2 separate regions of the Homo sapiens genome follow, and region 2 is linked to region 1. A link means that fine-mapping ties the variant in region 1 to the plasma level of a protein whose gene starts in the linked region. Region 1 holds a variant in brackets. A gene starts in the other region. All regions are shown on their reverse strands.

Evidence for each region. PIP is the chance, under the fine-mapping model, that this variant and not a neighbour inherited with it causes the effect. Protein levels are from antibody-based Olink assays in UK Biobank. Linkage for the fine-mapping came from a reference panel and not from the study's own genotypes, which makes the PIPs less certain.
Region 2: ADGRD1 starts here. The variant in region 1 is fine-mapped to the plasma level of the ADGRD1 protein (UK Biobank, PIP above 0.99).

Annotation. Positions count from the first base shown.
Region 1 is chr14:72,540,869-72,549,198 of GRCh38, reverse strand. All of the region lies in intron 17 of RGS6 (regulator of G protein signaling 6), which reads right to left. Among named protein-coding and RNA genes, the nearest start is that of MIR7843, 28 kb to the right of the region's middle. RefSeq lists an enhancer at 3,600-4,378. The variant T/C (reference allele first, on the strand shown) is at 4,022.
Region 2 is chr12:130,949,996-130,958,325 of GRCh38, reverse strand. It overlaps ADGRD1 (adhesion G protein-coupled receptor D1), which reads right to left and starts at 4,419. Exons shown (of 25, transcript NM_198827.5): 1 at 3,795-4,419; 2 at 3,666-3,702. The coding sequence starts at 3,860.

The DNA.
Region 1 (8,330 bases):
CACTTCCTGACGGTTTCCCTTGCTTTGAGTGTGTCATCTTGTGGCTTTTTCTCCCTCAAGGCGGAGTCTAGTCCTGAGTCTTTCAGATCCCTCTCCTCCAATCTCAGCAAACTCCTTCCTTATAATTCATTCTCCTTTTCCAGGACTTATTTATAAACCACAGAATGAAATGCAGTCGGATCCATTTAACAAGTATTTGGGGCAGCATAGAATTCCAGTTGCAAAAGATCATGGGATCTGGTGTAGAAACCTACTCTGCACTATCCTTGGCCATTCAGCTTCTAAACGGCTAGACATGGAGCTCGTTGCCCTTTGAGGGGACATAGTCTATTGTTGGAATATTCTGTTATTGTTAGAATATTTTTAGTATCTACCTATCTATCTTCTAGCCATTTGTTCTAGCCTTGCTCTCTGGAGCAACCCGGAAGTGTCCACTCTTGAAGACAAATGCAAAGAGCTCACGGTGGCCATCAAGTCTGCTGGGGGGCTAGACATTTTTACTCCAGCCTCTTCCGACGTGGCTTCCAGGGTCACTTTCTCTCTCTAGCTCTTCTCTCTCAATTGTCTCTAGATGTTAAAGTTCCTGATAATGTGGGGGCTTAGAACCAAGACTTAATATTGCTTAGAGCAACAAAAAGCAATGGAACACTTTTCCTTTCCCACTTTTGTTATATAGCCTAAAGCTGCCCTTTGGAAAGCAGCTGCATTCTGCATTTGCTTACACTAAGCTTATCGTCAATTACAACCCAAGAAATTTTTTTTTTTTAAACTTGATTTTTAGGAAAGGCTACAAATGCCATCCTGTAGTTGGGAAACTGAATTTAAAACACACACACACACACACACACACGCGCGCACACACACACACACAAATATGATCTGGTAAAATGCTATCTGTTTTTGACCCATCATCCCAGCTGCGGGAAATGCTTTCCAAATATAATTCCATTATCTACCAAATGAGCCACACTTTGGAGGTCTGGATCTTTGAATGTGGTTGGAATGTTTGTCTCTTCATCCAAGTCATCAAAAAGGTTATTGGATGGGCCATGGCTGAACCCTTGTGGCCCGCTCAGAGACTGCCTTTCCAGCGGACATAGACGGATTAATACACCCTCTCCCCTGCCATGAAGACGCTGAATATACTCACTTCACCTACAAAGGGGCAAACAGGGACGTGGAGGTGAGCAGGGGGAGGGAGGCAGGAATGGGCATTGCTTTCACCCTTCTTGTGCTGCTAACAGGCCACATATGAGTATTTTCTGGAGTGGGAAATGTATTTTTTAAGGTTACCCTTCTTAACAGTAAGCCAGACCGCCACGGGGGGTGTGGAGAGAATCTGCCAAATATTACACCAATGAGGCCCATTCCCGTATGTGGCCATGGTGCTGTTGCTCATGCTCAGGCTGATACAATGTGGCCATGATTAGGGGGCATGGAAGAACCGCTGCCCTGTGGCCCTGCCACTGCTGGGGTGGCTCCATGCTTCCAACCCCGTCTCACCTTCCCACCCATTGGGAAGCCACTAAGCAAACACCCAAGGGTCTTTCTCTCATCCACCTTTGGGCAAACATGACAAAACTAAAAATCCCACTGCTCTGAGTCCCACCCCCGGCAGTGTCCCATTTAGCCACACTGCAGGAGGGCAACATCTTACAGGCTATTCCTACCTATGGACAGGTATCCTGGCCTCCTTCCAAAATGTCATGCTTTCCTAACTCAACTCAAACCAGGGACACTCATCACTATTTTAAAAGGGGGAAGCATCCCCTGTTGTTTCCACCAGGAGCTCATTTTGGGGGGACTTCCATGGGTCGGGGGGGGGTCTTACTTCTTAGCCTTTGAAGTCCTCAGACTTGAAGCTCTCTGACTTCTCTTTGAACTTTCCAGTCTGGACCACAGGCAGAGTTGGGTCTCCTCTCCTTGACCGTGACATTGGCAGTGCTGTCGCCTTGCCAGACTCCTGCCATTGGATGCTCTTTCTCTGGCCCCCTCTGCTGCGGTGCTGCTGCTCCCCGGACAGGACTGAGGCAGGCTCTGTCCTAGGCAGAGGCGGGCATCCTGTCTTCTGAGTGGTCGGCCTTCCCGCTGTTTATCCTGCGGGGGGCCCTGCACTCCCCTTCACTCTCTGCCTTCTTACTAGGCAGGTGGGAGCCCACACAGTTCCCATGTGGCTGCACGAGGATGGCACTGGGGTCTGACTGCACAAGTGACAAGCATGCCGAGACCCCACAACCCCATCAGCCGCTTGTAAAGTGAGAGCACCTTTCCTGAGAGTGGGTGGGAGGAAGGCACTGTCATGGCGAAGGCCTGCAGGTCACCTCCCGAAATAGATCCCTGCTTGGCATACACACACTTTGCCCCCAGCCTGCCTTGCTAGAGACTGGCAGGGTACGCGATTTGGATCTGAATCAGTGGCTGTAAACACACAGCTGTGTCTTTCTGCCTCAGAGGATTTGATTTTCACTTGACTGCTTGGCACATTGGGGTCTGGGGAAGGCAGGAGAGGGCCTGGGCGGGGGTCGAGGGAGGGCCCACCAGGGAAAGCCAGGAGCAGCTGCCTCCACCGGGCCCTGATTGCCCCACATGTCCAGAAGGTGAGTCACCAGTGGGGTTTTTCTCCAAGTGGGCACTCCGTGGGGAGAGCATTTTGGCTGCTTTTGGCGGACAGGTTGAACCATCAGCGGGAACAGCTGGGGGCTCCTCCTTCCAACGGAAACGTCAGGGTCTAGGGCCCAGTGTCTCAAAAATGACAACCAACTTCTGGCCTTTTTTGATAAAAGTCTCGAGACTCCTGTCAACCCCGTGAGGAGCCACTTTGTCTTCTCTGTACCCACCAGCCATACTGAGTCTGTTGTTTTACATTTTGTAGTTTATAAAAAATAGACTTTTATATTTTCATTTTCCAGCTACAAAACTATAACAGTAAATATGCTTTTCCTAATTTCACACAGAGTCAAGATAAGAAGCGAAGCATAGAGGAGTTGTAACCTGGTCTTAACCACGGACTTCACCACTGATTGTAAACAGGATAACACTGTCTCTCATACTCTTATTTCCCATCGCTAAAAGAGGACAGCAACAAGCTGGCCCAGGGTTCCCTGGGGAACCAGAAAGCCTGGTAGCAGGTGAGCAGCAGAGTGTGCTGAGATTCCCAAGTGCTCACATTTCATTCCTTCCTATACCCATAGGGCCCCTGGGACCCCACAGTGCATGCAGTGATGCGGCAACACCGACCCTGGGGTCCACCTTTCTGCCCAGCTGACCCCACCTGACACACACACACACAGCTGGGCATCCAGACCGGAAGGGTGGGGACTGCAGAACTGGCAAGCTGAAGGGTGTAGGGCACTCACCCTGTTCTCTGTGAGTCCTCCCTGACCCTCCGGCGACTCACCGTGGACGAGTGAACCCTGAACAACTGAGCAGGGCCTGTGGTGTAGGTGTGGGGAGCCTGGGGCACTCAGTTCTCCTGCCAGTGCATGTCCAGGCTTTGTAAATACACCCAACTCAAGTCTATCCACAGTTTATTTCCCAGCCTCACAGGCTGGCAGGCACTTCTGAATCAGGTAACTAACTGGGCAAGAAGACAGCTCCTCTCCCATTCTAAGGAATGAGTTATATAACTCAGAAATCTCAGGACAGAGGGAAGCACAGACCTGCAGAACACCGCTAGCTGGAAGGGACCATCGAGACGACCTAGTCCAAGTCATTTCAGAGGAGAAAACCAGGGCTCAGAGAGGGCTAGTGATTTGCTTGAGGTCACATAGCTAGCAAGCTGAGGCTGGAAGCAGGAGCCAGTCTGCAGGAGGGCTGCTGAGGTGTCTCAGAGTCCCAGGACATGCACTTGCTGCTCCAGAGAGGCAGGTTTCCCTGCTTTCCTTCCCAAACACTTCGATGGAAGTCTCCCTCCAGCTCCAGCCAGGGCCAGGGTTTCACTGCAGCTGGATCTCAGTGCTCTGAGATGGGAGAGGCTGGCACTAATGTTTGTGACCCAGTGGTCCCAAAGGAGTCCAAGGAC[T/C]GTTTGCAATAAAAACTAACCCTTTGGAAAGATTTTTAGCCAATTGGCCCTTGCCAGAGGCACAGAAAGATCATTTCAACTGAGGTCAAAGCCCTCTGGGGATTCTGCTGAGTCTAGGTATTTGGGAACTCATTCCACCAGGGTGCAAGGCTGTTCCCCATGAAACCTTGAGGAGGAGGGGAAAACAACACCGCCTTCCTGGGGGCAGGAGCTGCTTCTGCCGGTTGGCTGACTGCCCTGATTGCCTGCCTGCCCCCTCCCCTGCGGAGAGCCTTAGCCCTCCACTTCCGGTCAGCACCTGGGCCTGGAGCTGGGAGTTTCTCTCTGCAGAGCTGCCTGGAGGGGGATGAGTGAGCTGTTGACTTCTTGGCTCTCATTAGCTCTTCCTTGGCTTTTGGCAGGGGAAGGAACAGGGGGATGGAAGGAGGGGGCGAGGGAGGCTGAGTGGCAGCTGGCTCCCAGAGCTTCCCGCTCCCCATCTGACTTGCCTGCTGCATTCCTTGGCAGGCAGGCAGGACAGGAAAGCCTGTCGCAGAGATGCCACCCATCACATGCCAAGCCTTCTGCAGCTTCCGGCCCTTCCTGCCGCAATTCCAAGGAGCACCTTGGCAAAGCTAAACTTCGATGCTCTCTTAGGAGGTGGATGAACGCCTGGTCCTCCTCTCCCTTCTCCTCCGTGGCCTCCAGTGCTTGCTCTGGCACCAGCAACCCCATTTTCTATCTATCTATCTTTGGAGCCCAAGGCTGGAGCTGATGAAGCTCTCAAGAGGGCAGGTAAGGTTTCAACTGAGCCTCCAAAGGTACCCAGGGAGGCTGACACCAGCCTCACTCGGGGCTGCCATTTTCTCCTAACTTCAGTGCTATCACCCTCTGCGGCTTTTTCTGTGGAACTGGACAGAGGAGCAAAGGACTTTCTCCAGCTTCTCCTCCCCAGATTGGAGCTCTCACCAGATGGCTTCAGCCAGTATCTATCTCAACAAGGGAGCTGCTGCTGTGGCTTGGCCCCGATTCCTCTTGCCCCCTCTCCCTCCCACGCATGCTCCTGGTCCTCTATGTCAGAGCCAGGCCCTCTTTGGTGAGGCCCCCCACCCCACTGTGGTAGACTCTGTGGAAGCTGAAGCAACAAGCACACTTAAGAGAGAGCAGAGGGCGGGGTGTGGTGGCTCATGCCTGTAATCCCAGCACTTTGGGAGGCAGGTGGATCACTTGAGGTCAGGAGTTTGAGAACAGCCTGGCCAATATGGTGAAACCCCATCTCTACTAAAAGTACAAAAATTAGCCGGGTGTGGTGGCGTGTGCCTGTAATCCCAGCTACTCGGGAGGCTGAGGCAGGAGAATCGCTTGAACCTAGGAGGCAGAGGTTGCAGTGAGCCAAGATTGTGCCACTGCACTCCAGGCTCGGAGAGTGAGACTCTGTCTCAAGAAGCAGTGGGAGGGTGAGCATTTCAGCTCTGGCCACCTTCATGCTCCTATTGTCCTCTGTCAACTGCAAAACCAGGAAGATAGCAGAGAGTGGCAGGCTAGACATCACCAAGCAACAGGAAAGAGTCTTCAGTGAGAGAAGGCACCTCCTCTCCCTGGTCAGTAATGCCTGAGACTTCCCACCAAAGAATCTGAAGAACAGCTGGAAGGTGAAGCAAAGGCAACCCACAGTGACTAGCCAGATTTCTCCTACTGTGGTTTTCATATGTTACAGCCACTGTGAAAGGAAGCTTCCCCATGAGCAGGATTAGGCAGAGACAGGCTCCAAATCACATGACCTGAGGCCATGTATTGGGGGCCCTGGAGAAGCTGCTGTGTGTTACAGCTCTTTCTGAAACAGGCTCCTCGGACAAGGGTGGCCATGTACAGTGGCGTGGGTTATTCACTGCACCAGGGCAGCTGAGGATCAATAGGGGCTGAAACCCAGCCTGTGTTTTGCCTGGTCAGCTGGGCATCTGTGAGGCTGGGCCCACCAGAGGGAGTCTTGTTTTCCATTTTGGATGAACGTACATGGTAGGCTAGTTGCGCCCTGTCGTGGACTTCAGTCATGTTTAGTTCAGAACCTGGGCCTTATCAAATAAGCAGGGTTTGTGGTTTCAGTCTGCAAAATGACAGGATGCTTGGCCCAGTGTCCCCAGACATTTGCTTTGTATATCCAAGTCCTGAGTAACCTGGAATGAAGCTTGCATTGGAAAGAGAAGCTCATACAGCACTTCCTCTATTGACTGGGGAGTACCAGGCCCCTTCGTCACCCAAACTAACATGGCCCTAAAAGCTTCCATGAACCATATTAAATGTCTCCTTAGGATCTCATGGAAAAGGGGGCATATGTGGTCTTAACAGATAATCCCTCTATGTCATGGCACAACATAAGACTTGGAAAGAACAATTTGTTTTTTCCAAGTGTTTCTCTTCTACCAAGAAAAGAAAGGACATTGGCATGTTCTGGGGAGAAATTCTGAATTCAGATTCAGTCTTGACAAGCCTCCAGCTGAATGAGTTATCCAATCACCTGGATCAACATTATTTCTTTTTGCCATCAATTAATCCTAAATGGTAATTGGCCTCACGTCTTTGGTCCGTGAGCTGCCCAGCTTCACTCCCCTGTTTCCATTATTAGCCCCATGACATGGGTCATGTTCTTACACATCTTTCCCAGCAACACAGGAATGCTATTGAACTGGCCCTTCATTTAGTTTTATAGCTTGCAGTATATAGCAGATAAAACATTCACGTAGATCTTCTCTTAGAGAAATCAAATACTTTAGGCATATGATAGTCAGAGAATGGCTATCAAATTGCAAGGCATATTGGTTGATCAGTTAGTTAGTTCTGTTTGATGAGACCACTGGGCTGTTGAGACCAGATTCCTGGGTTCCAATCTTAAGTAATCTGAGAGCCAACACATGGGTCATATTATTCCCCAAACTTAGCCACATCTTGTGGGGCTATGGTGTCACCCCAAGAGCAGGAGGAGCATGGATGGATGGCAATCCATCTCCACCACTGGAACCCCAAATTCTGAATGCATCACCTGTTAGAGTTTCTTGTTCATAAAATAGCAGGGAATTTAGGAATTTAGTTTTTTTTAATAGTTTGGGCCTTTTATCCACACCCTCAGGAGCTTAGGATACTTTTCTCCTTCAGCTCACTCTGAAACTCCCTCTGGAAGCTCTCCCATGTGTGCACTTCAGACACTTAGGGGTGTCTTGGTGCTTTCTTGTTCCAAATGCTTTGCTAACAGACCTTGGGAGAACCCCCAAGCCAACACCACTTCTGGGATGAAAGGAAATCAATAAATGCTCCTCACAGAGCTTCGCGAGACCATTCTTGCCTTTCTTGATACTCACTTCTCTTGAAAAACAGCCTGAAAATGTCTGGACGTTTTGTCCAAGTACCAGGCTTCCCCTCTCACACCCGTGGCCTGCACGGTCACCCTCAAGAGCTTCCGGGGGCTGTCAAGGCTCTGCTTACACAGGCACCCTTGGCTTGTCAGCAAAATCCCTAACCATCCTCCACCCGCACAGTAGCCAGTCCTCAAAAGAGACAAACAGAGAGAGATGGGATCCCACTACCTTCTCTCAGGCCATCATGGAGTGAAGGAAGTCCCAGAAGCCTTGACTCTGACAGCCCGTGGCAGCTTCTTGGTGTGCGGAGCCACACGGCCATTGGCAAAGCAGCCATGAAGATAGACCAGGCACCCGCAGGCCTTGTGTTCTGCACATTCTGATTTCTCATGAGGAAAGGCCACAGAGAGGGAAGACCGAGGAAGGGAAGGGATGGATACCGATGTTTAATTAATTGCCACCCACTAGAGTTATTTGAGGTTTACATGTAGCAAATTCAAGATAATGTTTAAATGCACTTAAAATGCATCTAGCTACGACACGTAAATGACTAGGCTGCTTTCAACCCAGGAGCCTTAGACTTTTTCTTAAAAGGATGAAATACGTATACCAGTCACACAGTAGTCAGGTTTTACAAGGATTTTCCTCCTCAACAGAGGTGGAACAAAGGCAAGTCAATATCAATGGGCTGCCACCCTTTGGGAAGGGAATGTGGCCAGCTCCCTGCATGGGACCCTGCTCCCTGGTTCCCTCTGGTTTGATGTTCATGGTACAGGATGGGCCCCGTGATTGAGCGGGATTGAGTATTTCTTGTGCACTGAGCTCAATGTTCAAATCTTGGGCCGACCAGCATGGAAAGAGGAGATTGGCCTGTGTTGTTCTACAAACCATGGTAGAGAGTCTCAGCCATGCACCCCAGGGAACAGCCACGGACTCCCCACTCCCACCTGTTGCCACGGCTGTCTTTATGTGCCACTGTG
Region 2 (8,330 bases), not on the chromosome of region 1:
CGGGTGACTGAGGCAGGAGAGTCACTAGAACCCAGGGGGCAGAGGTTGCAGGGAGCTGAGATCACGCCATTGCACTCCAGCCTGGGCGACAGAGAAAGAGTCTGTCTCAAAAAAAAAAGAAAGGATTGGATAGGATGGAGGGAGGGGGGAGGGAGGGAAGGAAATGAGGGAGGGAAATGGAAAAAAGAAAATGAGACAGGAAACAAAGTGAGAGAGAAGGCAGGAGAAGGGGAGAAGGGGAGGAGGGGAACAGTGAGGAGGAAGGGAAGGAAGGCAGGCAGCAGGATGTGTTGTTCATGGAGGGCACCTAAATATTCAGCAAATGTGTCCACCTTCACCATTATTCTAAAAAGGAAGGAAGGAGGAAGGAAGAGAAAAAAGGAAAAGTTCAAAAACAATTTGCAGTGAGAGGAGGACGAGGAAGGACGAGGAGAAAAAGAGGGACTGCTAGAACCTGGAAAGCTGAGGAGAGAGAAACCTTGCGGTTTCAAGAGCTCAGGAGGCATGGCCGCCTTCACTGTGCTTTTCCACACAGACTAGGGGTCACCACACCCTTCCGTCCCTTTCTACTGTCATCAGCATGGCCGTCGTTTCTCTAAGACAGTGCCTTGATCAGGAAATGTTGATTTCTACCCTAAATCCAGACTTGGAAGAACAAAGCTTCTATATGGAACAAAGACTGAGTTCAAACTGCTCCTTCAAGTTTAGATACAAAAATGCAAGTGCACATGTGCATGTGTGTGTACATATGTGTACGTGTGTGGATATGTGAGCTGTGTAAATAGGTGTACATGTGTGTGGATGTGGGATGTGTGTGAATGTGTGAGGGTGTGTGTGCATGTGTGTGCACACATGTGAGTATGTGAAGATGTGTGTGGACACGTGCATGCATATGAGTGTGTGTGGACGTGTGTGGGGTGTACGTGTGTGAGCATGTGTGTATGTATGTGCATGTGTGTAGAGATGTGCGAGCATGTGCAGATGTGTGTAGACACGTGGACTTTTGTGAATGTGTGTACGTGTATGCATGTGTGTAGAAATGTATGGATGTGTGTGGATGCATGTGGATGTGTGTAGTCTGTGACTGTGTGGTCATGTGTGTAGACACGTGGATATGTGTGGACATGTGTGAACATGTGTAAATACATGTATGTTGATGCACGTAGACATGTGTTGGCACATGTGGGTGTGGGTGTGTGCATGGATGTGTATATATGTGCATGTGTGTCTACACATGTGAATTGTGTGGACACATGTGTGGATGCATGTGGACACATGTTGATGCATGCAGGTGTGTGCATATGTGTGGATGCTTTTGCATGTGTATGCATGTGTGTCAACATGTCTGATGTGTATGGATGTGAGTGGTGTGTGGACATGTGATGTGTGTTGGCACATGTGGCCATATGTTGACACATGTAGACATCTGGTGTGTGTGTGTATGCATATGTGTCACCATGTGTGGATGTGTGTGATTTGTGTTGGTGCATGTGGGCATATGTTGACACATGTAGACATGTAGCATGGGGGGGCATGTGGACACATGTGCATGTGTGAGAATGCGTGTGGGCTCTGTATCATAAGCAGAAGTCCGGGGAGAACCCGCACAGCTTTTCTCCAACACTGAGCAGCAGTGAGGGCCATGCTGGGGCCTCGGGGGCCACCTGCCTGCTGCAGGAGCCGGGTGCACAGCTCTGCCTGACCGCCCTGCAGTTCGAGGGGCTACCCCTCTCCTCCTCTCAGTCCTCTCCCCTACTGGAGCCCAGCCCAAGCCATGAGGCCTGCATTCACGAGAAGCAAGGTGTCCAAGGTGGACACGTCCTCTCTTTAACGCAGCGCTGGGCATGTTTATTCGTTCCCAAGCCACAGGAGCCCTTGTTTCATTCAGCGATTTGGCTGAGGAGAGGGGAATGTGTGGAAACTCACAGCTTCCACACCTTTTTAAAAGGAGCTCCCTATGCATGTGGACGAAACAGAAGTGGCAGCGTCCCCACCCCCGAGTTGGTGAATGGAGGTGGTGGCGAGGCGACGATGCCTGGAACATCCTGGCATGGGGCTGCCGGGCAGCCGGAAAGGAGACAGAGGCTGAGGGCACAGCCCCTGGCCCTAGACCCCAGCAGGCTCCTGGTGCTCCATCCAGGAAAGGGGCTCTCCCTGGAGGCCTGGGTATCGCCCTGGGATCTGCCCACAGTGCTGGCCTGAGTCCATTTGTGGTTGATCATTAAAGGCTGGTTCCCAGCCAGGCCCAGTGGCTCACATCTGTAATCCCAACACTTTGGGAGGCCGAGGTGGTTGGATCACCCGAGGTCAGGAGATCGAGACCAGCCTGGCCAACATGGCAAAACCTTGTGTCTACTAAAAATACAAAAATTAGCCAGGCGTGGTGGCATGGGCCTGTAATCCCAGCTGCTTGGAAGGCTGAGGCACAAGAATCGCTTGAACCCGGGAGGCAGAGGTAGCAGAGAGCCGAGACTGAGATCTCACCACTCAACTCCAGCCTGGGTGACAGAGTGAGACTTTGTCTCAAAAAATAAAAACAAAAATAATTTTTTTAAAAAGGCTGATTTCCCATCAGAGACAGGCAGGGCCATACAATAGCGCTCGGGGGGGTGCCCAGCCAAGCTCTGGTGGGGCGGGGGCAGAGGCTGTGCTCACAACAGGCTTCCCAGCAGGGGTTCAGGCACTAGCAGGGTCTCCTCCCCACCTCCTGCAACTTCCAGCAGGGAGCAACAGCCCAGTGACTGCCTGCTGCTCCCAGAAAGCCTCGTCTTCCCATCCCTGCCCCTGGCTGACCAGAACGTGTGCCCACACTCTTAACAGCGAAGGGTGTGTGCCTCCCTGTCTTCCCGAGAGAAGCCCCGTCCTGATGCTTCCTGGTTGGGTGTCACAATGGCCAATGGAATGTGGCTCTGGGGCTGGAGCAAGGGTGGCCCTCTATCCCGAGTCCCACTCATCGGCTGCTCCAGGCTAAGCTGGTCAGCACTCTGAGGCTGGAGGTCCCGAGACCCTGCTATGGGCCAGAGCTCCAACTCCCCACCAGTGAATCTGCCCTGAAGACATGAGATGGGTGTGGTGGCTCACATCTGTAATCCCAGCACTCTGGGAGGCCAAGGCGGGCGGATCACCTGAAATCAGGAGTTCGAGACCAGCCTGGCCAACATAGTGAAACCCTGTCTCTACTAAAAATACAAAAAAAAAAAAAGCTGGGTGTAGTGGTGCACACCTGTGATCCCAGCTACTCAGGTGGCTGAGGCAGGAGAATTGCTTGAACCCGGGAGGCAGAGGTTGCGGCCACTGCACTCCAGCCTGGGCAACAGAGCAAGACTCCATCTCAAAAAGAAAAAAAGGAAGAAAGGAAGAAAGAGAGAAAGAGAGAAAGAAAGAGGCAGAAGGCATTCAAATGAAGATCATATTTCCTTAATCACAATGTTTCATATGACCCAGCTCAAGGGGCCCAGAACCACTTCTCCATCCACCGCTCAGCCGGTGAGGGGTAGCAGAGCTGCCCAGGGTCACAGTGTGTGGTGAGGCAGTGAGGTCGGGGACCAGGAGCCCAACAAGGGCCATTCGCTGATGCCTCAGAGATGAACAAGTGGGCTGTTCCTGAGATACCTGCACTAGGCAGGGGGAGAGCGGTGCTCAGAGTGAGAAGGAAACACTCTTACCTGGATGGTCCTGCGATCTGGAGTAGACGCCACGCACCTGCGCACAAAAGACCACAGTGTGAGACACACTCAGGGAAAGCCTCCGGAGAAACCAAGCCTGTCGCCATCCTGGCCACTTGGGGACATTACCTGAAAGTTGTAATAAAATAGCAGCAGCCAGGAGTACCAGCAGCACAGCCGCAGCAGCTTTTCCATGGCTCTCTCGGAGGTCAAAGCTCGGAGCCAAGTGAAATTCCTGAGGGTCTGTGAGAACGGGACCTCTTAACCTTCACTTCCTTGGAAAAGGGACATTTTCACAGGTTCCAGGGGAGAAAATTTCTGTCTCCTTAAAGTTTGTGAAACACAGCTGTCTTGGAGACCTAATGGGTGTTTCTTCCTCGTCTCAAAACTTGAGATTCTTCAGTGATCAATAAACACGTTGCGATGACCAGAGCAGCTGTGGAATGCAGGGAGGAGAAACCCAAACCCGACTCGCAGTCCTGGGAAAGCAATCCCAGGTCACCACTGTGACCGCGACCTGCGCCCGGGGACGGGAGGCTGTTTGTCCTGCGGTATTTTCTTTTTATTTCAAGAGCCTCCGTTTGTCTCAGTCAGGTTTGGAGCTTCCCTTTTCTCTGAAGAAGGTTTTGTGCGTGGTTTTCCCCTGGAGCGCCCGCCTGCTCCTCGGGCTTGTCCTGCGGCCGCTCTCGAGCTCCTTCTGGTCTGGCTCAAGTTCACACCTCCGTCCTGCTCTCTGGGTGGAGGGGGAGTGAGTGATGTAAGTCTCTCTCCTCAAACTTTGTTCTGTTCTCCTTTTCTATTTATATCCCCACTGCTGTGTCCTTCCTGGGTCCTAACTCCAGCCTCTTAACAACAGCTGAAATATTTCCAGGATCTCAGGCTCAGAATCAAACCAAACAGACATGGTGTGTGGTGTGTGTGCGTGTGCGTGTGTGTGTTACTGATGCCTTCTGGTCAGCACCTTCAAAGTCGGCATAAATATTAATAAATACAAAATGCAAAACAAACCATAAACTCTGTTTAGATCTGAGTCTTGTTTGCCCCCAAAAGAGAATGAAGTTGACAGAGGGATGGAAAAGAGAAAGCAGCACACCCACTGTGCCCTCCATATTAAGCGCTGACCACATTTTTCTCTCTAATCCTTTCGGACGTCAGTGAAAGCTACGGAATTAATTACAAGGTACGCTGCGCAATTACACCATCCCACATATACCCCCACCCCAGCACCAGGAGGATGTTCTCAATGGGATAGAAAAGAGTCAGCCCCTTCGCCAGACATGCCTCAGTTTACCCAAGACCAAAGTTTATCCGATCTACTCCAAATACACGTGGACACACAGAGACACACACCCTAGAATTGCAGTCACAGCTATATTTGCTATGTGATTTAAGTAATATTTACCGCTTCATACTTTCTCCAACATTCACCAGCTGTGCTCCTAGGCAAATTACTTGATCTCTCTTAGTTTTCGAATTCCTCATCCACAAAATGGGGGTTAATAGTTCCTCCTCCTCAGGGCTGTAACAATAAATTAGAGGACAGATCCAAGGCTCTTCAGGCAGTACTTGGAAAATATGTGGCACTCAGTAAATGCTGCTATTTTCTATTAAGAAAAATTATCACTCAGTAAATGTTAGCTATGATTATTATTAGCAAGTATAACATAACACCCAGTAAATGTTAGCTGATACAGTTATCTCAATTGTCCTGACTTTAAATGGGAATTAAGAATCCTGAATCCAACATACTTCCTAAAGAGGATAAGAAAATGACTTCCAATCTCTGTGGGACAGAAAAAAAGAAAGTGCTGTCAAAACGTTAGGTGATTATTTTTAACTTGTGCCTGCAGCCTACAACCGCTCAGATCCTCTGATAGCCTGAGCCTCTCTGTGGAGCTGGAGAAGGGTTCCAGAGAGTTCCATCTCCTAGCAATGGAGAAACTGTGAACTCCAAAGGCCGGGGGCTGTCTGTAATAACGACCTTTATCCTGTTGCTCAGGCTGGTCGGCTTCAGGGAAAACTAATTTACAACCTTTATCTCTGCCATTTCATCAGCTCTCCAGTCCCCCACTGCCTCTCGCTGGAAGAGGTGAAGGGAGGGACAGGCAGCTGCAGGTTTTTCTCAGCTCCAGTTTTAACCTGGAAGAATTCAACAGATTGCTGAATATGCGGACCTTTCCCATCTCCATGACCGAACAAAGCCAGCATGGTTTCTTTTCATCATAAAATTGTCATCAGATAATGGGAGACACCCCGATTCAATGACTGTAATAAAAACTAGATAGCAAAGCAATTCAGCAGAGCTTGCCCTGCAGGCATCTGCACTCATCCTCAGACTCACTCTGACTCTCCATCCCGGACTACAGTCTCGTGCCTCATGCTATTTGCCTGCGTCCTGTCTCAGGCCTTGTTCAGAGGCCCAGATGAAGAGCCCGCCTCCATGTAAAGCAGCGTGTCCTGAAGCCTGGAGATTTGAGACAGGGCCTTGAGTGGTCCATGGGCCTGGAACCAAGCAACTCTGATGTCTCTGAGCATCTCATTCCATCACCCAAACGTCGGGGTGTTCGGCACCCAAACATCACCTTGACAGCAGGTCTCCCTCCCCCTAAAGCCCTCCCCTGCTGTATTTTCTCGATCCCACTAACCACGATCCAATGTACTTCATATCTTAGACGTTTATTTCATTTATTGTCAGTCTCTCCCCACCGAGGCGTAGGCCCCATGAGAGCAGAGACCTTCTTTCTGCCTGTTCGCTCTGCACCCCAGCCCCGAGAACAGGGCTTGGTACTTGGTGAGCACTCAGCGTTTGTCACCAAACCCAGCCTGGCTCTGCCCTCCCGCAGCAAAGCCAAACATGGACGTCGGGATTGCAGTGAGAGGAAGTGAGGCATTTAGAGCAGGGCACCAGGCGAGCAGAACCTGGCAGCTCACACTTCAGACCTGAACTCCCCGATGGCTGATGGGGGAGGGTTTTTCAAGGTGGAGAGGCAGAGGTTACAGGCTAAGTCCCACATGAATAATACCTGGAGGCTGCACATTGGTTTGACCTAAAAAGCTAGGACATCTTGAACTGGGGGCCCACAGGTCATATAGGTAGTAGATTCAGAGGTTTTCTGATTTGTGATTGGTTAAGAAGGCAAGGCTTTGTCAAAAAATTTGAGATCAGCAAAAAAGAATGTTAGCTCTGGCCTGTGGGCATGACCTCCTCCAGGCCCCTCAGGAAGAAATTTAGAACAAAGAACAGTGGTGGGCCCGGAGGGGTGGATCCCAACACTTTGGGAGGCTGAGGCAGGTGGATCACCTGAGGTCAGGGGTTCGAGACCAGCCTGGCCAACATGGCGAAACCCCGTCTCTACTAAAAATACAAAAATTAGCCGGGTGTGGTGGTGCATACCTGTACTCAGGAGGATACTTGGGAGGCTGAGGCAAGAGAATCGCTTGAACCCAGGAGGCGGAGGTTGCAGTGAGCTGAGATTGAGCCACTGCACTCCAGCCTGGGCAACAGAGTGAGACTCTGTCTCAAAAAACAAAGAACAAAGAACGGTGGTGGAGTTCAGCTCTCCGCTCCCCCATATCAGAGGTCTGTAAGTCAACAGATCCATTTGGTGGGGGTCCAGGTTCTGAAAAACAACTCCGGGTCGTTTGTTACGATGTTGTCTTTAGTTTCTACAGGGAAGCAATGAATTCCTGACTCTAACTCTCTTGACTATTGTTTCTCGCCACTATTAACTTCTTGCTTCCCAAGTTGCTCATGTATTTCTCAGGGCTAGCTAGGTGGCTGGAATTCCCCTTCAAGGAACCCAAGATTTTATTGTATTTATTTATTTATTTTGAGATGGAGTCTCATTCTGTTGCCCAGGCTAGAGGGCAGTGGCACGATCTCAGCCCACCACAACCTCACTGAGCTCCCAGGTTCAAGCAATTCTCCTGCCTCAGCCTCCTGAGTAGCCAGGATTACAGGCACCCGCCACCACACCCGGCTAATTTTTTTGTATTTTTAGTAGAGGCGGAGTTTCACCATGTTGGCCAGGCTGGTCTCGAACTCCTGACCTCGTGATCCGCCCACCTCAGCCTCCCAAAGTGCTGGGATTACAGGTGTGAGCCACCGCGCCCGGCCCGATTTTCTTTTTTCTATGCTTGGGTGGGGAGTGCCCGGCAGGCAGCCTCACATTCAACATTCAAGTCATAGTTTTGGGCCACATGCATGTGTACTTTACTTAAAGAATGAAAAACATTGTTACGCTTTGGTAAAATATTTCAGACTTTACTGGGAGGATGCTAATTAAACATTAAAAATGAGACCTTACATTGTGATTAGGCTCCACTCAAAATTTTACAAGGACATAAAGTGTGACGCCAGCTACCAATGGGAACGTAACTGGATTATTTGCAAAGCTGATGCCCTGCGCACAACAGAGCATGTTTCCTGGTGCTGAGCAGCTCAGATGTCCCAGGAGGACAGATCGGGCCTGAACAAAGAATTCTGTGGAGTGGCCCAAATGCTGAGGGAGAGCTGGACAAGCTGTGAGCACAGGAGTTCCTGATGCCTGATTCACACCAATCCAAGGTGCGCCTCCCTCCAGCTCAGACCCTCCCATACGCCGGCATATTTGTGAGAGGCAGCAAGAGTTGTGTGTCCATCACGTTTACTCCTGTGTAGATAAG